2 separate regions of the Homo sapiens genome follow, and region 2 is linked to region 1. Evidence: fine-mapped expression QTL. A gene starts in region 1. The other region holds a variant in brackets. All regions are shown on one strand. Distances are from middle to middle. Region 1 holds the start of APAF1 (apoptotic peptidase activating factor 1). Region 2 has its middle 18 kb from the start of SNORA53.

Region 1 (16,206 bases):
CTAGGAAAACCAGAGACCTTTGTTCACTTGTTTATCTGCTGACCTTCCCTCCACTATTGTCCCATGACCCTGCCAAATCCCCCTCTGTGAGAAACACCCAAGAATTATCAATAAAAAAATAAATTAAAAAAAAAAAAAAAAAAAGAAAATACTACTTTAAAAATATTTAAACAAACAAAAACAGACAAATAAACTATCTGTTGCCTTAAGTTTCCATTTTTTTAAATTTGTACTACCTAAAATTTGTAAAAATCGGCCAGGCACAGCAGCTCACACCTGTAATCCCAGAACTTTGGGAGGCCGAGGCGAGGGGATCACTTGGGTCAGGTGTTCGAAACCAACCTGGCCAACATGGTGAAACCCCATCTCTACTAAAAATACAAAAATTAGCCGGGTGTGGTGGCACACACCTGTAGTCCCAGCTACTTGGGAGGCTGAGGCAGGGGGACTGTCAAGAGGCAGAGGTTGCAGTGAGCTGAGATCATTGCACCCCAGCCTGGGCATCAGAATGGGGCTCTGTCTCAAAATAAAATAAAATAAAATAAAATTTGTAAAAATCATCCCAAGATTAAAGGTAAAGAAAGCATCCTGATATGGCTACCTAGTAAATTCTTTCATATTTTAATTTATGTACCTATTACCTAGGGTCAAAGGCCTTTTTCCCTAAATGTATAACTAAAAATTTAGGGCATTTAAATACATGCAAGAAAAGAGAAAACACTACCAGCTTTAAAAAGGCAAACAGACCAAATGACCATCTGATATGTAAATCTCTAACCATCACAATATAACATTTAGTTAAAAACTGAACCATTAATTCCACATTTCAGAAAGAATCTAAACATCTTGACTATGGGCACAAGAGGGAGCAATTTAGCTTTGCATGAGGAGGCTGTATTTACAATTCACTCAGAGAAACTAATTCAGAGAAAAGTTGCCTTTATTCAGGGAAAACTCCACACTACTTTCACAGGAGGCTTATCCTGGTAGCAATTAATAATCTAATAACACAAAGAAATCTTGGAAAGGACAGAAACAAATAGGAACACAGCCTATGAAGAAAGCATCCATGATTAAAAACCAACATACGAATACAGTAATGTAAAATGTCACTACTGTATTTAAAGATACGTCAATTCTTTACTATTTCCCTACAAATAAGAAAAAATTAAAGCATTGAAATTTCAAAAGACAACTGGGTTACTTAAAACTGTATAGACATAAATAGTTAAAAACTATATATATATATATATATATATATATATATATTTTTTTTTTTTTTTTTTTTTTTTTTTTTTTTTTTTGAGACGGCATCTCACTCTGTCACCCAGGATGGAGAGCAGTGGTGCAATCTTGGCTCGCTGCAACCTCTGCCTCCCATGTTCAAGCGATTCTTATGCCTCAGCCACCTGGGTAGCTGGGATTACAGGCATGCGCCACCACGCCCAGCAAATTTTTGTATTTTTAGTAGAGACGGGGTTTCACCATGTTGGCCAGGCTGGTCTCAAACTCCTGACCTCAAATGATCTGTCCACCTCGGCCTCCCAGAGTGCTGGGATTACAGGCACGAGCCACCACACCCAGCTAAAAGTTAACAACTTAATATTCTTTAATTTATGCCAATCACCACCCAAAGAAAACATTTCCATAGGAACCACAATTTTAATCAAATTTAGATCTCTTATATTATCTGTACTTTTAAAAGAAAAGGTTTTGCAATACAATTAAATGTCAAAAATCCAATGTTCCTGTATTTGAGAATGGAAGTGAACTCCAGAGATTAAAATTTATCTTTGGGAAAGCACCTATTCTTGAATTAGTGGACATACAAAGGCAGACTCCAGAGAATAAAGAACTAAATATGAATAATAAGACTGTAATAGGACTACTTGAACAAAACTCAGGAAACACAAGTTAGAAGACAAAAAAAAAAACTGATTAGTTTGACTACATCAGAGTTCTCGTCTACTGAGAACACCCAGGAAAAAAATTAATCAGATGGCAAATTAAAATAAGGTATTTAAAAGTCTAAAACCAGCTGAGCACAGTGGCTCACGCCTGTAATACCAGCACTTTGGGAGGCGAGGCAGGGGGATCACCTGAGGTCGGGAGTTCGAGACCAGCCTGACCAACATGGAGAAACCCCGTCTCTACTAAAAATACAAAATTAGCCAGGCGTGGTGGTGGGTGCCTGTAATCCCAGCTACTCAGAAGGCTGAGGCAGGACAATCGCTTGAACCTGGGAAGCAGAGATTGTGGTGAGCCAAGATCGCGCCATGGCACTCCAGCCTGGGCAACAAGAGCGAAACTCCGTCTCAAAAAAAATAAAATAAAATAAAATAAAAGTCTAAAACCAACAAAGTTTAATGTCTAGAATATATAAGAAACTCCTAAAAAGCAAAAAGAAAAAAAAATTGGAAACCCCAATGGAAAATAGACAAATAATATAAACAAAATCCATAAAAAAAGAAACCCAAAAGGCTAACAACAAGCTTATGAAGAAATGTTCAAACTTGAGTTACCAGAGAAATGCAAAGTAAAAGACACAACTTTATAGAAGTTTGCCTGGCAAAAATTACAAAGCTGGATCATACCAACCGTCACTGCACAAGTAGAATTATCGGAGTCCCCATACTCATCTGGGGGAAATGTACAGACTGGAGGGGAATCAAATTTGGTATTTGTATATCCTATCATTTAGTAATTTTGGCTGGACATGGTGACTTTCATCTGTAACCCCAGCACTTTGGGAGGCCAAGGCGGGAGCATCACTTGAGCCCAGGAGTTTGAGACCAGCCTGGACAAGATAGCAAAAACCTGTCTCTACAAAAAAATGTTTAAAAACACACCAAGCATGGTGGCTTACACCTGCAATTCCAGCACTTTGGGAGGCCAAGGTGGGTGAATTGCTTGAGCTCAGGAGTTCGAGACCAACCTCGGTAACATGACAAAACCCCAACTCTACAAAAAATACAAAAATTAGCTGGGTGTGTCAGCATGCACCTGTGGTCCCAGCTACTCCGGAGGCTGAGGTGGGAAGATCACTTGAGCCCAGAAGGCAGAGGTTGCAGGGAGCCAAGATTGTGCCACTGCACTCCAGCCTGGGTGACAAAGCAAGACCCTGTTTCATAAATAAATAATTAGCCAGGCATGGTGGCGTGTGCACCCAGCTCCTCAGGAGGCTAAGGTGGGAGGATCACTTGAGCCTAAAAGTTTGAGGCTGCAGTGAGCTATGATATGGCCACTGCACTCAGCCTGGGCAACAGGGTGACACTCTGTCTCTTTAAAAAAAAACAAAAATAAATAAATAATTACTAATTTTGCTCCTAGCTACAAATACCCAAGAAATTCTTACTCACATAGAAGTTCAACCCAGCTTTGCTGCAGCAGCAGAGAGTTGGATACAATCTACATATCCATTTACTTAGGGTAATGAGCAGTAAAATGGGTTGGTGGCAATCAGGTGTAACAAATAACATGTATACATAGCAACAAGGATAAATCTTAAAAACATTGTGTCATGGGAGATAAAAAACAGAATAATACCATAACATCTATGCAAATTTAAAATACCTGCATACCAACAACATACATATTTTACAAGAGTACACACTTTACACAGACATTTACAAAGAACATACATTAAATACATTAGGATTGTCCATGGAGAGGGGAAAGGAAATAAGAATAGGAAATTTTGAAATGGAAATAAATAAATACAGTGAAAAGCTCAGCCTAGTACAGATCTACTATAATAAGCCGTGAACTAAGGAATATGAATAACTCAGTCCTCTGAACTTGAGATCCCACAAAAGTACGAGGAATATGAATTAAGCTCACATGTACAGTTGCCAGTATCTCTAGGATTTTCTCAAAACAAAGTAGTTAAAACCTGTTCCAAGATAACAATTTATACAATATGACTCCTGAATATTTAATTCCATAGATTGTTAGTCAATTTTAATCCCTAGAATTGAAAATTCATCACAATAATGTAGAGCAATTTAAATGGGGAGAGGGAGTGTTCTTTTAAACCTATAAATTGGAATATTATAAATACACAAAGAAAGTTCATAATATTGAAAGGAAAACTCATTCCTTCACACTAAAGGAACTTAAGCTAAATTTATCCTGAAATATCCTTAGTGATCAACTTTGCAGTAGGGGCTTAAAAAAATCCTTGGCTCTGAGACTTGAAAGGAGCTAAGTCTCAGGAAACTTCTCTGTAATGATAGAGGGGAAAAACCAAGGGTTAGGAATCAGGCATACTTCTGACAAGAGTATAGTCTATACCACTTACAAAGGCTATGAAATTAAACTGAGGCCATGTGTACACATAGATATACCCTAGCCTCCATATTTCTAAGTCTCTTAGAGGCTTACTACTTATTCCAATCATTCTGTCTAAACTGTCTTAACCGTAGATCATGTTATACATACATATCAAAAAAAAAAAAACAAAAAACTTTTTTTTGAGATGGAGTCTTGCTCTTGTTGACCAGGCTGGAGTGCAGTGGTGCGATCTCAGCTCACTGCAACCTCCGCCTCCTAGGTTCAAGTGATTCTCCTGCCTCAGCCTCCCGAGTAGCTGGGATTACAGGTGCTCACCACCACACCCAGCTGATTTTTTTTGTATTTTTGGTAGAGACGGGATTTCACCATGTTGCCCAGGCTGGTCTTGAACTCCTGACCTCAGGTGATCCACGCCTCAGCTGGGATTACAAGCATGAGCCACCGTGCCTGGCCTACTAAAAAAAAAATTATTAACTACTAGAAGTTGGGAACTGTCTTTGAATTCCCCTAGAAGTGTCATACAGAGAGAACACACTGATGAATGAGAACACACTGATGAATGGGGGCAGCCTAGAACTGATGGAGCTATACAACTATTCCTGATGAATACCCTGAGAACCTACCAGGATCGCTAAGGTCAGTGGTATACCTGCCAACATTTCTTAAACCCTCTTCTACCCAGTATGCCCTTCCCCACCCCAGTAACCACCCACTACCTTTCCCACCTTCCCTAGTCTCCCATCCCTACCTTCACTGCCTAGCTAACTTTTATTCTTTCTCCAAACTCCTGCTAAGATGTCATCTCATTCAGGAAGCTTGTCCTATCCATCCCCTCCCTTCAGAGAGTTAACATATCCTTCCTTTGTTCTAACTCTGTACCTTATACTTGTTTCTACCATTCAATTTATCACGTATTGATATATCATAATATTTTTACATGTCTATCTACCTTACTAGACTATGAAATGGACTAAGACACTTACCTTCTAAAAGGGAATGATCTCTAACAGCTTCTGCAGCTAATACAGACTTCCCACAGCCTGCCATTCCATGTATGGTGACCCATCCTGGTTCACCTTTCAATTTGGAGAGCTTCTGCTGAATTGCATTCACCAGCTTCTTCCTTGTGACAAAAACAACTGGCCTCTGTGGTACTCCACCTTCACACAGGACTGTCCTTACTAAAATCCAAAACAAAACAAGCATGAATGAATAGAACTTTGGAATAATTACTGAAGTAATACCATAAAAAACAAAGAGCAAAGCTGAGGCTTAGCCTGAAAATTTCCAAGAGAAGTTAAGAAAATGTGGCTAGCATATTAACTTCAATTTTCTGATTTCTCAGACAACAGAGAGCAAAGACAAACATATATCCTTCAAGATGACTAAAGAAAATGGAAGTTTCTATCTATATCTGCTTTACTCACCCAATTATTTCCTGACTTTTCATTCCCTCTCATATTGAAGACTGGGAAGGCAAGTGTAAAAGGAAGAACATTTATGGAATACCTTTCAAGAACATATATTTCTAAAGATTCTTATTTTTTCCTATAAACTCTATAAACACATAGAACTGGAAAATAAACAAGGGCCTATAAATTGTCTTATTGTCTCTAAAAATTAGGGTAGACATATTATTATCTCAGCAGTACAGTTCACTGGGCAAGAAGAAAAGTTGAGAGTTAATGTGGATGCAAATAAAAAATATTTAAATTGAAAACATCACTACAATTTTTTTAACATGCAGTTTTCAGTGAACTGGTCACACTCTCTTCAAAAGATTACATCTACAATAAGACAAACCCAAAGCAATTTTGATAGCAAAGTGATAGAAGGTATAATGGATACAAACCATACGAAGTTATTCCACTAACTGAATCTTTACCACTGGAAGAAGAGACAACAGGAATGCCATCATGGAGAAGGGCAGCAAGATCTTTATATCCTTCATGTAGTAGAGCATTGTAGAATGATACGTAGGAATCATTATCTTTTTTAAGTATCATTTTAATCAGCATAGCTGCTCTTTGCTGTTGAGTGGGCTAAAAAAAATTAAGTAGTTTAGTATACAACAATGAATATGTATGCAACATAAAGTAGTGGAGACCAGTACAAGTTCTGAAATTCTAAAAATTTTTAAGGAAGTGTGGACTGCTTCAGAGAGCTTTACCTCATTTCTTACTTTTTCCTCTTCTGATATTGTTAAAAATCCATCACTAATCATGTGATCCATGATGTAGGATGTCTTGATGTCCTTTTCCAGAGCTTCTCTATGTTGAAGCAAACAATTTCGAGCTTTTGCATCCATCTTCCCTCAGATCTTTCTCTCTCTGAGCTGTCAACCATGAGCTACAGCCAAAACACCAAAATATTTGTCAGGCCAATAAAAATATGAAAAGATACATAATCTCACTAATAAACAAGAAACGTAAAAAGAACAAAACTGATTTTTTTTCCTTGGCAAAAATTTTTAAATGGACAAAACCCAGTGCTTGGAAAGGTATGAGAAAATGGCCATTCTTATGCACTAATTGGGGAAACTAGAAAATGAATGCAATTTTTCTGGAAAGCAGTAAGATATGGAATTGTTTAAAATAAGCTTTCTCTCTAACCCAGAAATCCCATTTCTAAGGATTTACTTCAAGGAGACATTCAAATACATATGTAAAAATATCCACAAGGAGAATTAATGAGTTTCCAATCAGGTGTGGTAGCTCAAGCCTATAATCCCAGCACATTGGGAGGCTAGAGTAAAAAATAAAAAGAAAAAAGAATTAATGGAGGATGTTTCAGTGATGAACGCAACCTAAATGTCCATCATTCTGAATATAGATTTTAAAAATTAGGGTATGTATATAAAATGGAATATTATGCAGCCATTCAAAATTATGACACATATCTCCATGTATTGACATGGAAAGATGTTCATAATACTGTTGCTGAAAAAAAAAAAAAAAAAAAACAGAAACATGATCCCACATACAACACATAACGTGGGGGCCGGGCGCAGTGGCTCATGCCTGTAATCCCAGCACTTTGGGAGGCCGAGGCGGGTGGATCACGAGGTCAGGAATTCAAGACCAGCCTGGCCAAGATGGTGAAACCCTGTCTCTACTAAAAATACAAAATTAGCCAGATGCAGTGGCAGGTGCCTGTAATCCCAGCTGCTCGGGAGGCTGAAGCAAGAGAACTGCTTGAACCAGGGCGGCAGAGGTTGCAGTGAGCCGAGACCACTCTACTGTACTCCAGCCTGGGCGACAGACTGAGACTCTGTCTCAAAAAAAAAAACAAGTGTTGGTATCATATGAATATATATAGACGTTTAGAAGTTTATTCATCGAAATGTTTGAGTTACTTCTGAGTAGCAAAATTTGGGATTTCTCCCCCACCTTGTCTTATTTTTTTTTTTTTTTTAGTACAGACGGGGTTTCACCATGTTGACCAGGCTGGTCTTGAATTCCTGACCTCAGGTGATCCACCCGCCACAGCCTCCGAAAGTGCTGGGATTACACTTGTGAGCCCCACCATGCCCGGCCTCTACTGTCAATTTTTTTTAGCACACATTATCATTTCTTACAATAAAATACTTCCTTTTTTAATTAAGATTGTATAAAATAGTGATTACATTGAAGTCCTAATATTAAGAGACTTCTTGTTTTCCTTATCAAACATAAGAGTGAATAGAGCATTGTTACTATTGAGTATTAGTTCTCGTTCAAGGAGGATGTCAGCTCTAGGTCCTCCTTGCTAAACACATTTCCCACAAAGCAACAGGAAACACTTTCTGATGTGATTTCTCAGACCAGGAGGACATGAGGAAAGAATAACAGCCTTTATAGTAAAATACTTGACGTTTCTAGCAACTTTATTTCAAATATAATGCAAATTTTTCCATGGGCATAAAACCCAGTTCACAATATCTGCAAGTTTTCAAAACATTAACAGAACTTTACACAATGTATAGAGTGAAAGAGTCTAAACGGGTTTATCAATTCATTCATTCAATACACATTTGTGCCCCTCCCTATATGTCAGACACCAAGACTACAGAAAAGATTGAGTCATTTGCCTGAAATAATTCACAGTCTACTCAAAGAAGAAAAAGAGAGAGAGAGTGGGAATGTGAATGCCCGAAGTGCAAAAACAGAGCACAAGTAACTTGGAGCTCACAGAAGGGGGCAATAATTATCAAGCTTCAATGACTGTTTTTGAAGTCACCAAATGTAGCACTTGGAAAAACAGGGACGGACGTAGGGCATTTGCCTATGCTTGTCAAGGCTTACAAAATGCCCAGCAGGGGCACAAAACTGATAAAAAGTTATTGATTCGAATCAAAACTCTCATTTTTTAAAATGTTAATAACGTTTTTGTCCTCTTAAACATAAAATGTTCCTTAATTTATAGTAATGAAATTCGATGTGAAAAAACAAGAATGAATGAATTTTTTAGGTGATGTCCAATAGCTAAGCAAATAAGACACTCTGGTTTTCTGAAACTAATTTCCAATTTCACCTAGTCCTGTTAAACTAAAATATGCAAATCTTAAATACGTTTTAAAACTGCACAACTTATCTGAACTAAGTCTCAAAACCTTTTGTAACCCACAACAAAATGGAAAGCCAAAACTCTTCATGGACGTAAAACAGAAAACAGCGCACGTTTATCCACGAAAACCCCAAGTTTACTACTTCCTCATTACAGAATTTCTCTTCCTGGTACAGGAGCAGGATGGTTATCAAATATTCCATGTCCTCAAATTCTCAGTCCCTGAAATCAGCTACCAAGCCTCCAAAGAACCTGGCTCGGGGAGAAAAGCGAGGAGGTCAACTTACCCAAGCCTTTGCGCCTAGGTCTTAGTGGGGAGGGCGGCACTGCCGGGACAAGACTGGGAGACTCCAGGCCGGTGGAGGGAAACGGCAACAGGAGTTTTCCACCGGGAATTAGGGGTGCAGGGCTCTGTCTCGCCACATACCCTTCGCCCCGGGGCAGGTCCGGGCCTCACAGGCGCCTCCCCTGGATCTCTGCAGCCCCGGGGCGCACGAAGACCCCCAGGGACCTCCGAAGGTTGGCGAGGTGGGCGTCCACCCAACGCAGCCTGACCCCACAGTCCCGGAGCGCCGCGGTGAGGCCCGGCCCACGGGCCGCCCTCCGGTGGACCCCACTACTGGACACAAAGGGAGGAGGTCTTCCCGGCCTGTGGCGCCCTTCCCCCGACGGCGGCTGCACCCCGGAGGGAGCCCGGCGCTACTCCGGATGCCGCTGCGGCACCTCAAGTCTTCGCGGGTCGCCGACTGCCCAGACTCCCCACCTCTGGTTCTATCCCTTTTGCCCGGGATAGAGCAGTCACGTCCACTCGCTACCTCTTCTTCTCCGCCTCTGGACAGCGGAGCAGTCAAATCCCGCCGGATCCACCCAGCCCGGACGGCGCGCGCCCGCTTATGCAAATAAACACACCCCAAGCCCCAAGGGGCGGCCACCGCTGCCGCCGCGCACTCCTGCCACGGCTCATGCCCGCGCGCGTAGAAGTGCCCGCCTACCCCGCGGACGGGGCGTGGCTAAGCCTCAGGGACGCGCCGCGTTCCCACCAATGCCGGACTCGGGCAGCGGCGGCGCGCCCGACGTGGCGCGCGCGACCCCTTCGTCCTGCCCCTCCTCCTCGGGTCCCGTCGGCCTGCGCGCGCCCGGGAGTTTGAATTTCCTCGGATTTGGAGCAATATCGCAGTGGAAGGCGCTGTGGGTTGAGGTCGCCGCCCACCTCTCCTAGGGGAACTATGGAGCTGGCAGCTGAAAGACTCAGTGAAGCAACGAGGATGCCGGGGAGAGGGAAGGGGCTGGGCTCTGGGCGGTGCCAAGTCTGTGAGGGGGCGCGGTCACCGCCCAGGGTTCCCACGAACGCCAAGGCGGCCACGTCCTGCTCCCCCTGGTGAAGAAGCTGCCCTGGGCTTGTCGTCCTAGGGTCTCCAGACATGTCTGAGGTGAAGAGCCGGAAGAAGTCGGGGCCCAAGGGAGCCCCTGCTGCGGAGCCCGGGAAGCGGAGCGAGGGCGGGAAGACCCCCGTGGCCCGGAGCAGCGGAGGCGGGGGCTGGGCAGACCCCCGAACGTGCCTGAGCCTGCTGTCGCTGGGGACGTGCCTGGGCCTGGCCTGGTAAGTGGACGCGAGGCTGCCTGGGCCGGCCTCCTGTGGGCCCCCTGCTGTTTGGGCTCCCACCCGGCTCAACATCCAGCCGGAGGTGATCCAACCTCCCAGACCTGGGCCTTCTGTGCCTCTGTCTTGACCCCAAAGGAAGGAAACAGCCCAGCCTTGTTTTTCCCTTTCGGGCGTTTCTTGTATCTCATTTCCCCCCGTGCTGGTAGCATGCCCCTATCGCTCAGAAGGAGTTGAGGCTAAGGTTTGGGAACGAGCCATTTGTTAAGAGCTGCAGATTCGGCCACGCTTTCTGAAGCTCCCGCTACACGTCAGAAGCGTTCACGTTGTTATAAACCGTTACTTCCTGTCCGCTGTGCCCCATTCCGGGACACATCTGCCCCACCCTACTCACCCCATAAATACCTAATGGAAATACTTGCAACCTTAAAACAGATCATTATGTTTGGAGACCGAGGCAGGTGGATCACTTGAGGTCAGGAGTTCGAGACTAGCCTGGCCAACATGGTGAAACCCCATCTCTACCAAAAATACGAATAATCAGCCGGGCGTGGTGGCGGGCGCCTGTAGTCCCAGTTCCTCCGGAGGCTGAGGCAGGAGAATCGCTTGAACCCGGGAGGCGGAGGTTGCTATGAGCCAAGATCGCATCACTGCACTCCAGCCTGGGCGACCGAGCGAGACTCCGTCTCAAAAAAAAAAAAAAAAGAAAACCATATCATTATGCTCCCAAAGGAGCAAACGTTATAGTAGCAGAGCTTGGAGGAGTGCTCATATTTTGATCACCGTGCATGCATTATGAATTTAAGGTCTTTTATTAAGTAAGTTACAGATTGAATATGGTAAAGCTACAAAAACATAGCACTTGTGTTCACTTAAAACTAACCAGTTGCAGTTTTAAAATCAGGTAAATGGCGATATATTGGTGTCATTAGGAAAAATGAATATTAGAAATAACCTTAAAACCAACTCGTAAAAAAAGAAAAAAGAAAAAAACCAACTTGTGAATTTTATTTTCCCAGCCTTTTTTTTTCTGGCGGGAGGAGGGAATAGCCCATTTCATTTTAATAAGATTGGCATCTTAATAGAATTTTTCTCCATTTTTCATTCATGTGTAAAGTTATTTAGTAAGACTGTTGTTAATCTTCCAGAGTGATAGAATTTTAGAAGAGACCCTGGACATCTAGACATTTTTTATGCTACTACATATGGAATTATACTTTACTGGTGACTCATCCCAAATAGTGTATTTTTCAGAGTTAAAAGATTTGTTACGGCTGGGCGCGGTGGCTCACACCTGTAATCCCAGCACTTTGGGAGGCCGAGGTGGGCAGATCATGAGGTCAGGAGTTCAAGACCAGGCTGGCCAACATGGTGAAACCCTGTCTCTACAAAAAATACAAAAATTAGCCAGGCTTGGTGGCACAAACCTGCAATCCCAGCTATTCAGGAGGCTGAGGCAGGAGAATCACTCGAAATGGGGAGGTGGAGGTTGCAGTGAGCTGGGATCGTGCCATTGCACTCCAGCCTGGGCAACAGAGCGAGACTCCATCTCAAAAAACAAACAAACAAAATTTTGTCACAATAAAGTGATTAAACGCCCTCTTCAAAAACAATAGAATTGTCAGCCTGCCGGCAGTGGCTCATGCCTGTACTCCCAGCACTTTGGGAGGCCAAGGTGGGTGGATCACCTGAGGTCAGGAGTTTGAGACCAGCCTGGCCAACATAGCAAAACCCTGTGTCTACTAAAAATACAAAAAAGCCAGGCATGGTGGCATGCTCCTGTAATCCCAGCTACTCAGGAGGCTGAGGCAGGAAAATCACTTGAACCCAAGAGGCGGAGGTTGCAGTGAGCCGAAATCGTGCCACTGCACTCCAGCCTGCAGGATGGAGCAAAACTCCTTCTCAAAAAAAAAAAAAAAAAAAGCAGATAGCATTATTTATTTTACTAATACGGAATATGTTAATTTTGATCTGAAAGGAATAAATGTACTGAATTTACTGTTTTAAATAAACGGCTCTTATGCCTTAAAATGCTTGACCTCCTTTAAGTAAATTGAAAAAAAAACCTTTTTGGGCCAGGTGCAGTGGCTTGCGCCTGTAATCCTAGCACTTTGGGAGGCCGAGGCAGGCGAATCACTTGAGGTCAGGAATTTGAGACCAGCCTGTCCAACATGGTGAAACCCTATCTCTACCAAAAACACAAAAATTAGCTGGGCCTGGTGTAATCCCAGCTACTCAGAGGTTGAGGCAGGAGAATCACTTGAACCTGGGAGGTGGAGGTTGCAGTGAGCCAAGATCTGCTACTGCACTCCAGCCTGGATAACAGAGCGAGACTTCGCCTAAATAAATAAGTAACCTTTTGTGTTTTGGGAAAGTTAGTTACTATCCTGGGATAAGCTTTAATAGAAAACTAAACTTTATGGGAATAAAATTTCCCTCACATCAGGAATTTGCTGTTAGTGATTCCTGTATTACATTGTAATGAATGTATTACATTCATTAGGAAGATTTAATTTGAACTATGTTTGCAAAATGATAACACAATGCTATATCAAAAATAATTTTGGGGGCCAGACCCAGTGGTTCATGCCTATAATCCCAACACTTTGGGAAACTGAGGCGAGAGAATTGCTTGAGGTCAGGAGTTTGAAACCAGCCTGGGAAACATAGTGAGACCGTGTCTACGAAAAATTTTTAAATATTAGCCAAGTGTGGTGGCATTCGCTGTAGTCCCAGGTACTTGGGAGGCTGAGGTGAGAAGATAGCTTGAGTCTGGGAAGTCAAAGCTGCAGTAACCCATGATTATACCACTGTGCTCCAGCCTGAGAGACAGAGCAAGACCCTGTCTCTCTAAAATGTATGTATTATATGTGTTTTTTATGGGCAGATTCTATAATTATTATTTAAATAGTTGCCTCTTAGTTGCTCTTGTGAAATCTTTTGCTGCAAAAATTGAAGCAAATGTACTTTGGTTGCTGTTTATTGCAAAATATTTATTCATAGTAAATTTTGAAATAAAAATATATCCCCATAAGACATTTGTAAACATTTTCCAGATAAAAAGCAAGTATTTGGCATCTTAAAATACTTAAAAGCTCACTAGAATTTTGACAAAGCCATTGAGATCTTTACCACTAAAACACGTAATTCAGCATCTAAAAGTCGGTCTATCAAATCTTTATTAAATGCTTTCCGTACTGACACGGCCCTGGTGGTTAAAATACAAGTGCATATGTGTGCCTGTCTGTGTACTCTTAAATACTGCTTACTCTCACTCTTCATCTGATTAAGTTGGAGGGAAAAAATCTGAACCCTTCCACTGCCCAAGAAGGATTTCAAGGAATCACACTATATCATTGTCTTCAGACCATTTCCTATGTGGAAAGAAAAGAGAAATAATACATAAGAAACTTAAAAGTGTGTTGCTTTAATATCTTCTCTCTGCTAAATAAAGGCCTGATAGGCCAGGTGTGGTGGCTCCCACCTGTAATCCCAGCACTTTGGGAGGCCGAGTTGGGCGGATCTTGAGCTCAGGAGTTCAAGACCAGCCTGGGCAACATGGTAAAACCCTGTCTCTACAAAAAATACAAAAAATTAGCCAGGCATGGTGGCGCATGCCTGTAGTCCCAGCTACTTGGGGGGTTGAGGTTGGAGGATTGCTTGAGCCCCGGAATTTGAGGTTTCAGTGAGCTTTGATTGCACCACAGCACTCAGCCTGGGTGACAAAGTGAGACCCTGCAAAAAAAAAAAGGCCTGATATATCCTATGTCATCTTGACAATAAACACTGGAGATAAGTTGCCCAAACCCATATGGCTTGAGTGTCAGTTTGCATAGCTCTTTTCTAAACTCTTATAGAAATTTTTCAGGTAAGAATTGAGGTGATTCTACTTTCAGAAAGTTAAAAAGTTGTTAAATTACTAAACAAGACACAAAACCTGTCACTCATGCTTATTTAATTACATAGAAATTTAATCAGCTGGAATTTCCATTGTGAAAATTTTGTTTCTTATGGAAACTTCAATAGATTTTTTAATTGCTTTTTTGTTTTGTTTTGTTTTGTTTTGTTTTGTTTTGTTTTGAGAGATGGAGTTTTGCTCTTGTTGCCCAGGCTGGAGTGCAGTGGCGCAATCTCAGCTCACCGCAACCTCCACCTCCACCTCCCAGGTTCAAGCAATTCTCCTGCCTCAGCCTCCCGAGTAGCTGGGATTACAGGTGTGCGCCACCACGCCCAGCTAATTTTGTATTTTTAGTAGAGACAGGGTTTCTCCATTGGTCAAGCTGGTGTCAAACTCCCAACCTCAGGTGATCTGTCCACCTCAGCCTCCCAAAGTGCTAGGATTACAGGCGTGAGCCACCGTGCCTGGCCTAAATTGCCTTTATAAAAGTTTTTTATAGTATCTGTTATAATTATGTACAAAAAGTCAAAAGCTCTTTAAGCAAGTTGTATAACTCTGGTTTTTGTTTTAATTATCCAATATAATTTTCTCTATAAATCATACTGTAAAACCTTGGCTAACTCCATTTCCAGCTTTTTTCTTTGTGTTAGTAGAGTTTTATCTAAAAGACAAGGGTATAATTTAAATGTCCTGCTTCTTAAAAATGGAATATGGTCAAGGTTTTCTTGAAAACTAGGTATTGTGCTAAAACTGAGGCTATAGATGGTATGAAACATAGGGCTAAATGGGTACTGACCCTAATAGTGGCCCTGGAACTTCTTTCCTTGCAGAAGGTCCGTAACAGCTTCCTTTGGTTATTTGCCTCTTTTTCATTATTAAGCTGAAATAGAGCCAGAGGAAATCCTGAATTTGTAAGTCCTCAGTCAGCTGTCTGCCACCATTTAACGTTCCTAAAGGAGCTATTCAGAGGCAACACACACCATTAATTACCACCATGCACTGTAGGAAAATGTAAACCATTCATTATCACAGGACCCTAGATAGATCTGTATGAGGTCTCTATAGACTGCAATGGCTCATGAAGGAGTCAGGAAGATTCTTTTTGTAAGGCCTACGCTAAAAGTAGCCTGGGTCCCTTTCTCCTGTATCTCACTCTTCCACAAGGCCATATGATATGATAGTGAGAAGAGGCCCAAAAACGAGAGTTATTTTTATTTAGTGATTTATAAGTGGTCTAATCCATCTATTCCATCCTTCATTTGCCATAAACACAACCCAGTTTATACTTAGTGTTCAAAGGGGGACAGGCCTGGGGCTTCTATCAAGTGCAAGTGGTCGGGAACCCTGCTTCCCTTATGCAATCATAGGCATGTAGGAAGGATGGAAGAGTAGCTGCACAAAGTAGTCCAAAAGAAAGATAGCTGGTCTTGTTGATGGGCACCTGTAATCCCAGCTAGCTGGGAGGCTGAGGCAGAAGAATCACTTGAACCCAGGAGGCGGAAGTTGCAGTGAGCCGAGATCACACCACTGCACTTCAGCCTGGACAACAGAGTGAGACTCCATCTCCAAAAAGAGAAAAAAAAGGGGCCACAGTACTTAAAGGAAATAGCTGATGTGCTATGGCTCTATTGTTCCAGGAGCTTTTATAAATAGCAATAACTAATGTCTACAATAACTCGGCCAGGCATGGTGGCTCACACTTATAATCCCAGCATTTTAGGAGGCCAAGGCGAGAGGATCGCTTGAGCCCAGGGAGTTTGACCTGCAGTGAACTATGATTGTGTCACTGTAGACCTCTTCCTCTTCAGCTGCCTCAAAAAACGAACAAACAAACAAAATAGCCAGATCTCCTCTCTACAGAATTTTTTTT
Region 2 (8,000 bases), 29 kb after region 1:
CAGCCTTCATTATCGTCATCATAACAGCTCTATATATTGATTACCTACCTTGTGCCAGTCATTATCACTAATCCTTACTACACCTTTACTAGCTATTAGACCCATTTTACAAATAAGGAAATGGAGACTTAGGAACATTGGGAATCTTGCAGTCACACTGTAGACCTAGGTCTGTTCAATTCCAGAGGCCAAGGACATCTCACTACACCATGGAGCCTGCTACTGTTCAACTAGGGGAGAAAAATCACAACAAATCTGCTGTTAGTAGAACTATCTCGATAACTCAAAAAGCAATAATTGAGTCAAATGTGTTCTCTACCATGTTGCCATTAAACCAGACTCAGTCCCTCAAAAGCTGTAGCTGTGCTCTAAAATTGTTTGGCCCTTGAGCATGAGAAGGAATCAATAAATGAATAAATGTTGGAGAAGAGGAAAAAGCAGTGCTGAAGAGTCCTAGGCTGTACTCCTCTAATCTATTAATAGGTTTTGCCACTGCATATTCTGGGCACTTTATTTTAGGGCTTAGGTTTTTTTTGTTTTGTTTTGTTTTTTGAGACAAAGTCTTGCTGTGTCGCCCAGGCTGGAGTGCAGTGGCACAATCTTGGTTCACTACAACCTCCGTCTCCTGGGTTTAAGCAATTCTCCTGCCTCAGCCTCCCAAGTACCTGGGATTACAGGTGCCTGTCACTACACCCGGCTCATTTTTTGTATTTTTAGTAGAGATGGGGTTTCACCAGGTTGGCTAGGCTGGTCTCGAACTCCTGACCTCAGGTGATCCACCCACCTCGGCCTCCCAAAGTGCTGGGATTACAGGTGTGAGCCACCACGCACGGCCACTAGGGCTTAGTTTTAAATAGTAAAAGGAGAGAATTATATCAATAATCCCTAAGATGCCTTCTGGCTTTAAGTGGTTTTATTTACTTATTTACCCTTTTTTTAATATAAAAAAAAGTAGAGGTGAGGGTCTCTCTATGTTGCCCAGGCTGGTCTCAAACTCCTGACCTCAACGGATCCTCCGTCCTTGGCCTCCCAAAGTGCTGGGATAACAGGTGTGAGCCACTGCGCCTGATCTAAATGGTTTTAAATTATACAGATCAATAAAATTTCCAGGTCCTTTAATAGAATTCAAAGAACCTAGCTGGGTGCAGTGGCCCACGCCTGTAATTTCAGCGCTTTGGGAGGCTGAGGTGGGTGGATCACGAGGTCAGGAGATCGAGACCATCCTGGCCAACATGGTGAAACCTGTGTCTCTACTAAAAATACAAAATTAGGTGAGCGTGGTGGTGAGCGTCTGTAATCCCAGCTACTTGGGAGGCTGAGGCAGGAGAATCTCTTGAAACCAGGAGGCAGGGGTTGCAGTGAGCTGAGATGGCGCCACTACACTCCAGCCTGGGCGACAGAGCAAGACTCCGTCTCAAAAAAAAAAAATCCTTTAGCAAGTTTTTAGAAAGCAGATTGGACCTAGAAATCATATTCTTGAACCATGTTGCTGTGCTTGTAGATCCAGGCAATGTTTAACATTACAGGACAGCATCTAACCTCATACCTTGAATATATGATAGGAATTTAATAAATATTCTGGCCGGGGGCAGTGGCTCATGCCTGTAATCCCAGCACTTTGGGAGTCTGAGGTGGGCGGATTACTTGAGGTCAGGAGTTCGCAACATGGTGAAACCCCGTCTCTACTAAAAAAAAAAAAAAAAAAAATAGAAAACTTAGCCAGGTGTGGTGGTGCATGCCTGTAATCCCAGCTACTTGGGAGGCTGAGGCCGGAGAATCACTTGAACTCAGGCGGCAGAGGTTGCAGTGAGCAGAGATTGCACCACTGCACTCCAGCCTGGGCAATAGAGTGAGACTCCATCTCATAAATAAATAAATAAATAAATAATCAAATCACTGATGTACTTTTTTTTTTTTTTTTTTTTTTCTGAGAAAGGGTCTGGTTCTGTCGCCCAGACTGGAGTGCAGTGGCATGATCTCAGCTCACTGCAACCTCTGCCTCCCAGGATCAAGCCATCCTCCCAGCTCAGCCCGGCTATTTTTGTAATTTTTGTAGAGATGGAGTTTCACCATGTTGCCCAGGCTGGTCTTGAACTCCTGAGCTCAAGTGACCCATCCACCCCGCCTCACAAAGTGCTGGGATTACGGGCGTGAGCCACCATCCCCAGCCTTCACTGATGTGCTGTTTTCAGCTACTGATAGACTCTAACTCTTCTATCCATCCTAGGCAAATAGGTTAACCAAACCCGAAGTAATTTTTAAAATAACTTAATACAACAATCTGTAGACTATTACCACACTGTATTGAGCTTATATTTTCATAAAGATCAATAGAAGTTCATGATACATTGCTATTATAAACAACCAAGTGAAACAAAGAGGTTTACTAACAGCTTCTTCCTAATAATCTGATCCTTCTAAGAATAAGCTAAGCTCATTCATCAACATCTTAATTGTTTAATTGCTATTAAGCTACTTTTACCAGAGTAGATACATTAATAAATGATAACCTGGTAATGAAATAGATTAAAGTAGCCGTCTAGTCCTTTCTCCCTTGGGAGATTGTTTCATCAAATACACTATGTTGCAAAACTTCCTCCTTAAAAATAAAATGTGATTTTGCAATCACTTCTTGGTTTCCTTCCTATTTGTGGCTACCGCTTAATGTCATACCCACAGGAACATTTCGCAAACTCACTTCTCTACCAAAAAACACATTTTGGGCCACCTTATCCACCAATAATTAATTTAAGCATAAAGCAATTGAGGAGAAAAATCCTCAAGTGTATTTTGAAATTAAACATTTATGATGGGGCGAAGTGGGGGGGTTGCTACTTAGAATTATTTTGTCCTACTGTCCCATTTCTGTACTTCATTATAATTATTTTGCAACTATATGGATGCTTCTTTTTAAAGCTGCCCTCAAAATAATATTCTGAGCATAATTCATTTTTATTTGTGTTAAGTAAAACTAAATGTATGATAACCAAAATAATCTCAAAAGGTTGGCATTAGCCAAGTAATCCAAATACAATTTAAGAAAGATAATTCAAGCTAGGTGTGGTGGCTCACGCCTGTAATCCCAGCACTTTGGGAGGATCACTTGAGCCAGGAGTTCAAGACCAGCCTGGGCAGCATAGTGAGACCCCCATCTCAAATTTTTTTTTTTTTTTTTGAGACAGAGTCTGGCTCTGTCGCCCAGGCTGGAGTGCAGTGGCACAATCTCGGCTCACTGCAAGCTCCGCCTCCCGGGTTCACGCCATTCTCCTACTTCAGCCTCCTGAGTAGCTGGGACTACAGGCGCCCACCACTACGCCCGGCTAATTTTTTGTATTTTTAGTAGAGACAGGGTTTCACTGCATTAGCCAGGATGGTCTCGATCTCTTGACCTTGTGATCCGCCCACCTCGGCCTCCCAAAGTGCTGGGATTACAGGCGTGAGCCACCGCGCCTGGCCTCAATTTTTTCTTTTAAGAAAGATAATTGATAAGAAAACATTGAAGAAATACACAATTATTTTAGAAAAAAAGATATCTTTAGATTAAACTGCATATTTAATTTTGTAAAAATGTTTTACAGTCTATTTGTTTTTATAAATTTTAATTTCAATTTTTTTGTTTTAGAGATGGGGGTCTTGCTATGTGCCCAGGCTGGAGCACAGTTGGTATTCATAGGCACAATCATAGCACACTACAGCGTCAAACTCCTGGACTCAAGCTTTTTTATTTCTTCTTTTCTGAATTTTAAGTAACACATTTATCGACATTCTGTGTCCCAAACTAAACTACAAACTCCCTAAAAGCAGAGACTGTTCTTGATCATACTAGGACATACTGTAGTACAGTATATGCTGTCAAATCAAACTAGTTTTGGTTATTAATAGAAAGTTATAATTTCCTACTTTACAACATAGTACTTTCCTAGAAAACAAGCTGAAAGTTAAATATGCAAAAGTCAAATGATTGACTTACACATTATAAATGGGATTCTTTTTCCAGAGTAATTACTGTATATCTGTCTTTGGGCATACGCATTAGCAATGTATTTCTAGCCATTTTACATTTGTTTCTTAATTTATTTTTCTTCATAATTGAGCACACAGTCCATAGGCTAATCTTCTGATTGAAGCTAAATAGTCTTACCTGATTTCCATCTTTGTTTTAATTGTACGACTTTATCCAACTTTGTGTGGTTTATGAGATCTACCCATCTTATCGCTATGTAATTTTCCCTTCTTCATTTTATTAACTGATGGCACAATGCAATAAAATGTCAAATATTTAAAGTTCGATAAAATACTCAACTCC[C/T]CAACACTGCTATATAGGCACGCACATGTGTGTGCACAGACACAGGACCATCACCACAAACAACAACAAAAATAACAACTCAAGATGTTGCCAGACACTTGGGTGGCTCCAAATGTTTATCAGTTAATGTGTCCAAGTTAAATCAAGGTGACAATTTAAGAGCTTTCAGTTCATAATGTATAGTGGGGAAGAAGGATGACATTGAAACATACAAAAGTTGAAAAACAGCTGCATTTGGAATCAGAATTTTAGAACCTTGGAAATTCTTTTCTTTTACTTATCTGTCTTCTCTACTAAACTAAGTTGAGGCCACAACTCGAGTTATACTCATCTTTATGTTCCACATATTTTGCATGCCTAACAACATACTAGGAACTTGAGAATTTGAATTATTCAAGGTCTCATGGATAGTTAGATAGGCCAGAAAACTGTTCATAAAAGTTACAGGCCAATAAAGCGTAGACATATAGTCTTGGACATTGGTCCCTTCATTCTAGCATTTGCTATAACTTATTTGCAGTTGCCTTAGACCCCGAATAGCCAAAGCAATCTTGAGCAAAAAGAACAAAGCTGGAGACATCACACTACCCGATCTCAAAATATATTACAAAGCTGTAGTAATCCAAACAGCGTGATACTAGCATTTAAAAAAAAAACATAGACTAATGGAACAGAGAGCCCAGAAATACTTCTACAAGTGTATGTTCAAATGATTCTCATCCAAGTTGCCAAGAACACACAAAAGGGAAAGGACATCTCTTTAATAAATGCTGTTGAGAAAACTGGATATCCTATGCAGAAGAATGAAACTGGACCCTTATATCAAACCATATACAAAAACCAATTCAAAATGAATTAAAGACTTAAATGTAACACCAGAAATTGAAAACCGCTGGAAGAAAACATGAGGAAAAAGCTTCTTGACGTTAGTCTTGGGAAAGATTTTTTTGAATAGAACCTGAAAAGAACAAGCAACAAAAGCAAAAATAGATAAATATGATTGTGTCAAACTAAAATCTTCTGTACAGAAAAGGAAACAGTCAACAGAGTGAAGAGACAACCTATAGAATGGGAGAAAATACTCATGAACCATAAATCTGAGAATGGCTTAATATCCAAAATATATAAGGAACTCAACTCAATAGCAAAAAAAAACCCAATTAAACAATGGGCTATGGACATGAATAGACATTTCTCAAAAGAAGACATAGTAATGGCCAACAGGTATATGGAAAAAAATGCTCAACATCACTAATTATCAGGGAAATGAAAAATTAAAACCACAATGAGATATCAACTCACACCTGTTAGAATATTTATTATCAAAAAGACAAAAGATAACAAGTGTTGGTGAGAATGTGGAGAAAAGGGAACCATCGTACACTGTGAGTGGGAAAGTATAGCCATTATGGAAAACAGTGTGGAGGTTCCTCAAAAAAAAAAAAACTAAGAATAATCATATGATCCAGCAATCCCACTTCTGGATATATATCCAAAAGAAATGAATCAGTATGTCAAGGAGTTTTCTGCACTCCCATATTCATTGCAGCATTACTCCCAATAGCCAAGATATGTAGAATCAACCTAAGTGTCAATCAACAGATGAATGATAAATAACACACACGCACACACACAAAATGCGGTTCTCCCTTTAAAAAGAAGGAAATCCTGTTATTTGTGACTACATGGATGAACCTAAACGATATTATGCTAAGTGGAATGAACCAGGCACAGAAAGACAAATACTGCATGATCTCAATTATATGTGGAATCTAGAAAAGTCAGACTCATAGAAGTACAGAGTAGAATGGTTACGAGGGATTGGAGGGGACAGGGTAGGACAATTGAGAGATGTTGATTAAAGAATACAAAGTTTCAGTTAAACAGGATGAATAAGTTCTGGAGATCTATTGTATAGTATGATGACTGTAAATAATAATAATATATACTTGAAAATTGCTAAGAGGCCGGGCGCGATGGCTCATGCCTTATAATCTTAGCACTTTGGGAGGTCGAGGCGGGCGAATCACTTGAGATTAGGAGTTTCAGACCAGCCTAGTCAACATGGTGAAACCCTGTCACTACTAAACAACAATCAGCCAGGCGTGGTGGCACACAACTGTGGTACCATCTACTCTGGAGACTGAGGCAGGAGAATCACTTGAACCCAGGAGGTAGAGGTTGCAGTCAGCAGAGATGGGGCTATTGCATTCCAGCCTGGGTACAGAGTGAGTGAGACTTCCATCTCCAAAAAAAAGAGAGAATTTCTAGGAGAGTAGATCTTAAATATTCTTACTACAAAAAAAAATACATGAGGTGATAGATATGTTCATTAGCTTGATTTAATCATTCACAATATGTGCGTAGATATGTATATCAAAATATTACATTGTACACAATAAATATATACAATTTTAATTTGTCAATTATACCTTAATAAAGCTGAAATAAAAAAGAACTTATGTTGCCTTGTCTCACCTAGCAAAGCTCAACTGGAGGAAACTTCCTTTTCCCTTCTCCAGCAACTGAAAAACCACATCACTGTCTCATGTAGCTCATTTTATTACTGTACAGAAGACCAATTGTGAAAATATTATAATGTAAAAAATGTAATTTCCAGGGACATTTCATGAAATTTTCTTAATGTTTCCTTCTTATTCATTAGTAATTCACTTACATTGTTCTAAATTCTCTTACTTCTGAAGTCGTCTTTTACCATATGCTTTCCAGAAGAACAGTAAAGTGTAGTTAAAAAATAACATAAGGCAGGGCGTGGTGGCTCACGCCTGTAATCCCAGGCATGGATTTAGGAGGCCGAGGTGGGCAGATAACCAGAGGTCAGGAGATCGAGACCAGCCTGTCCAACATGGTGAAGACCCGTCTCTACTAAAAATACAAAAAAAGTTAGCTGAGGTGGGGGCGGGTGCCTGTAATCCCAGCTACTTGGGAGGCTGAGTCAGGAAAATCGCTGGAACCCAGGAGGTGGAGGTTTCAGTGAGCCAAGATCGTGCCACTGCACTCCATCCTGGGTAACAGAACAAGCCTCTGTCTCAAAAAAAAAATTAAAATTAAAAAGAAATATAAAATTTAAGATGAATTTTAAATGGTAAGCTTCTAATACATTTAATCATTGTGATATTATATTTTCTTATAGTGGCAGAAATCTGAAGCTATCATGGAACAATTGAAGTCTTTTCAAATAATTGCTCATCTAAAGCGTCTACAGGAAGAAATTAATGAGGTAAAAACTTGGTCCAATAGGATAACTGAAAAACAGGATATACTGAACAACAGTCTGACGACGCTTTCTCAAGACATTACAAAAGTAGACCAAAGTACAACTTCCATGGCAAAAGATGTTGGTCTCAAGATTACAAGTGTAAAAACAGATATACGACGGATTTCAGGTTTAGTAACTGATGTAATATCATTGACAGATTCTGTGCAAGAACTAGAAAATAAAATAGAGAAAGTAGAAAAAAATACAGTAAAAAATATAGGTGATCTTCTTTCAAGCAGTATTGATCGAACAGCAACGCTCCGAAAGACAGCATCTGAAAATTCACAAAGAATTAACTCTGTTAAGAAGACGCTAACCGAACTAAAGAGTGACTTCGACAAACATACAGATAGATTTCTAAGCTTAGAAGGTGACAGAGCCAAAGTTCTGAAGACAGTGACTTTTGCAAATGAT

The links. PIP is the estimated chance that this variant, and not a neighbour inherited with it, causes the effect.
Region 2: its variant is the best candidate, but not a certain one, in a credible set for the expression of APAF1 in whole blood (INTERVAL, PIP 0.65).

What each region holds. Positions count from the first base shown.
Region 1 is chr12:98,638,755-98,654,960 of GRCh38, reverse strand. APAF1 (apoptotic peptidase activating factor 1) reads right to left here and starts at 9,671. Exons shown (of 27, transcript NM_181861.2): 1 at 9,126-9,671; 2 at 6,464-6,642; 3 at 6,146-6,335; 4 at 5,277-5,474. The coding sequence starts at 6,601. It overlaps IKBIP (IKBKB interacting protein), which reads left to right and starts at 10,173. Exons shown (of 3, transcript NM_153687.4): 1 at 10,173-10,438. The coding sequence starts at 10,260. RefSeq lists enhancers at 4,399-5,598, 9,573-10,200, 10,201-10,827, 10,828-11,455 and silencers at 9,267-9,476, 9,797-9,996.
Region 2 is chr12:98,613,801-98,621,800 of GRCh38, reverse strand. It overlaps a transcript of IKBIP not described here. Among named protein-coding and RNA genes, the nearest start is that of SNORA53, 18 kb to the right of the region's middle. The variant C/T (reference allele first, on the strand shown) is at 4,307.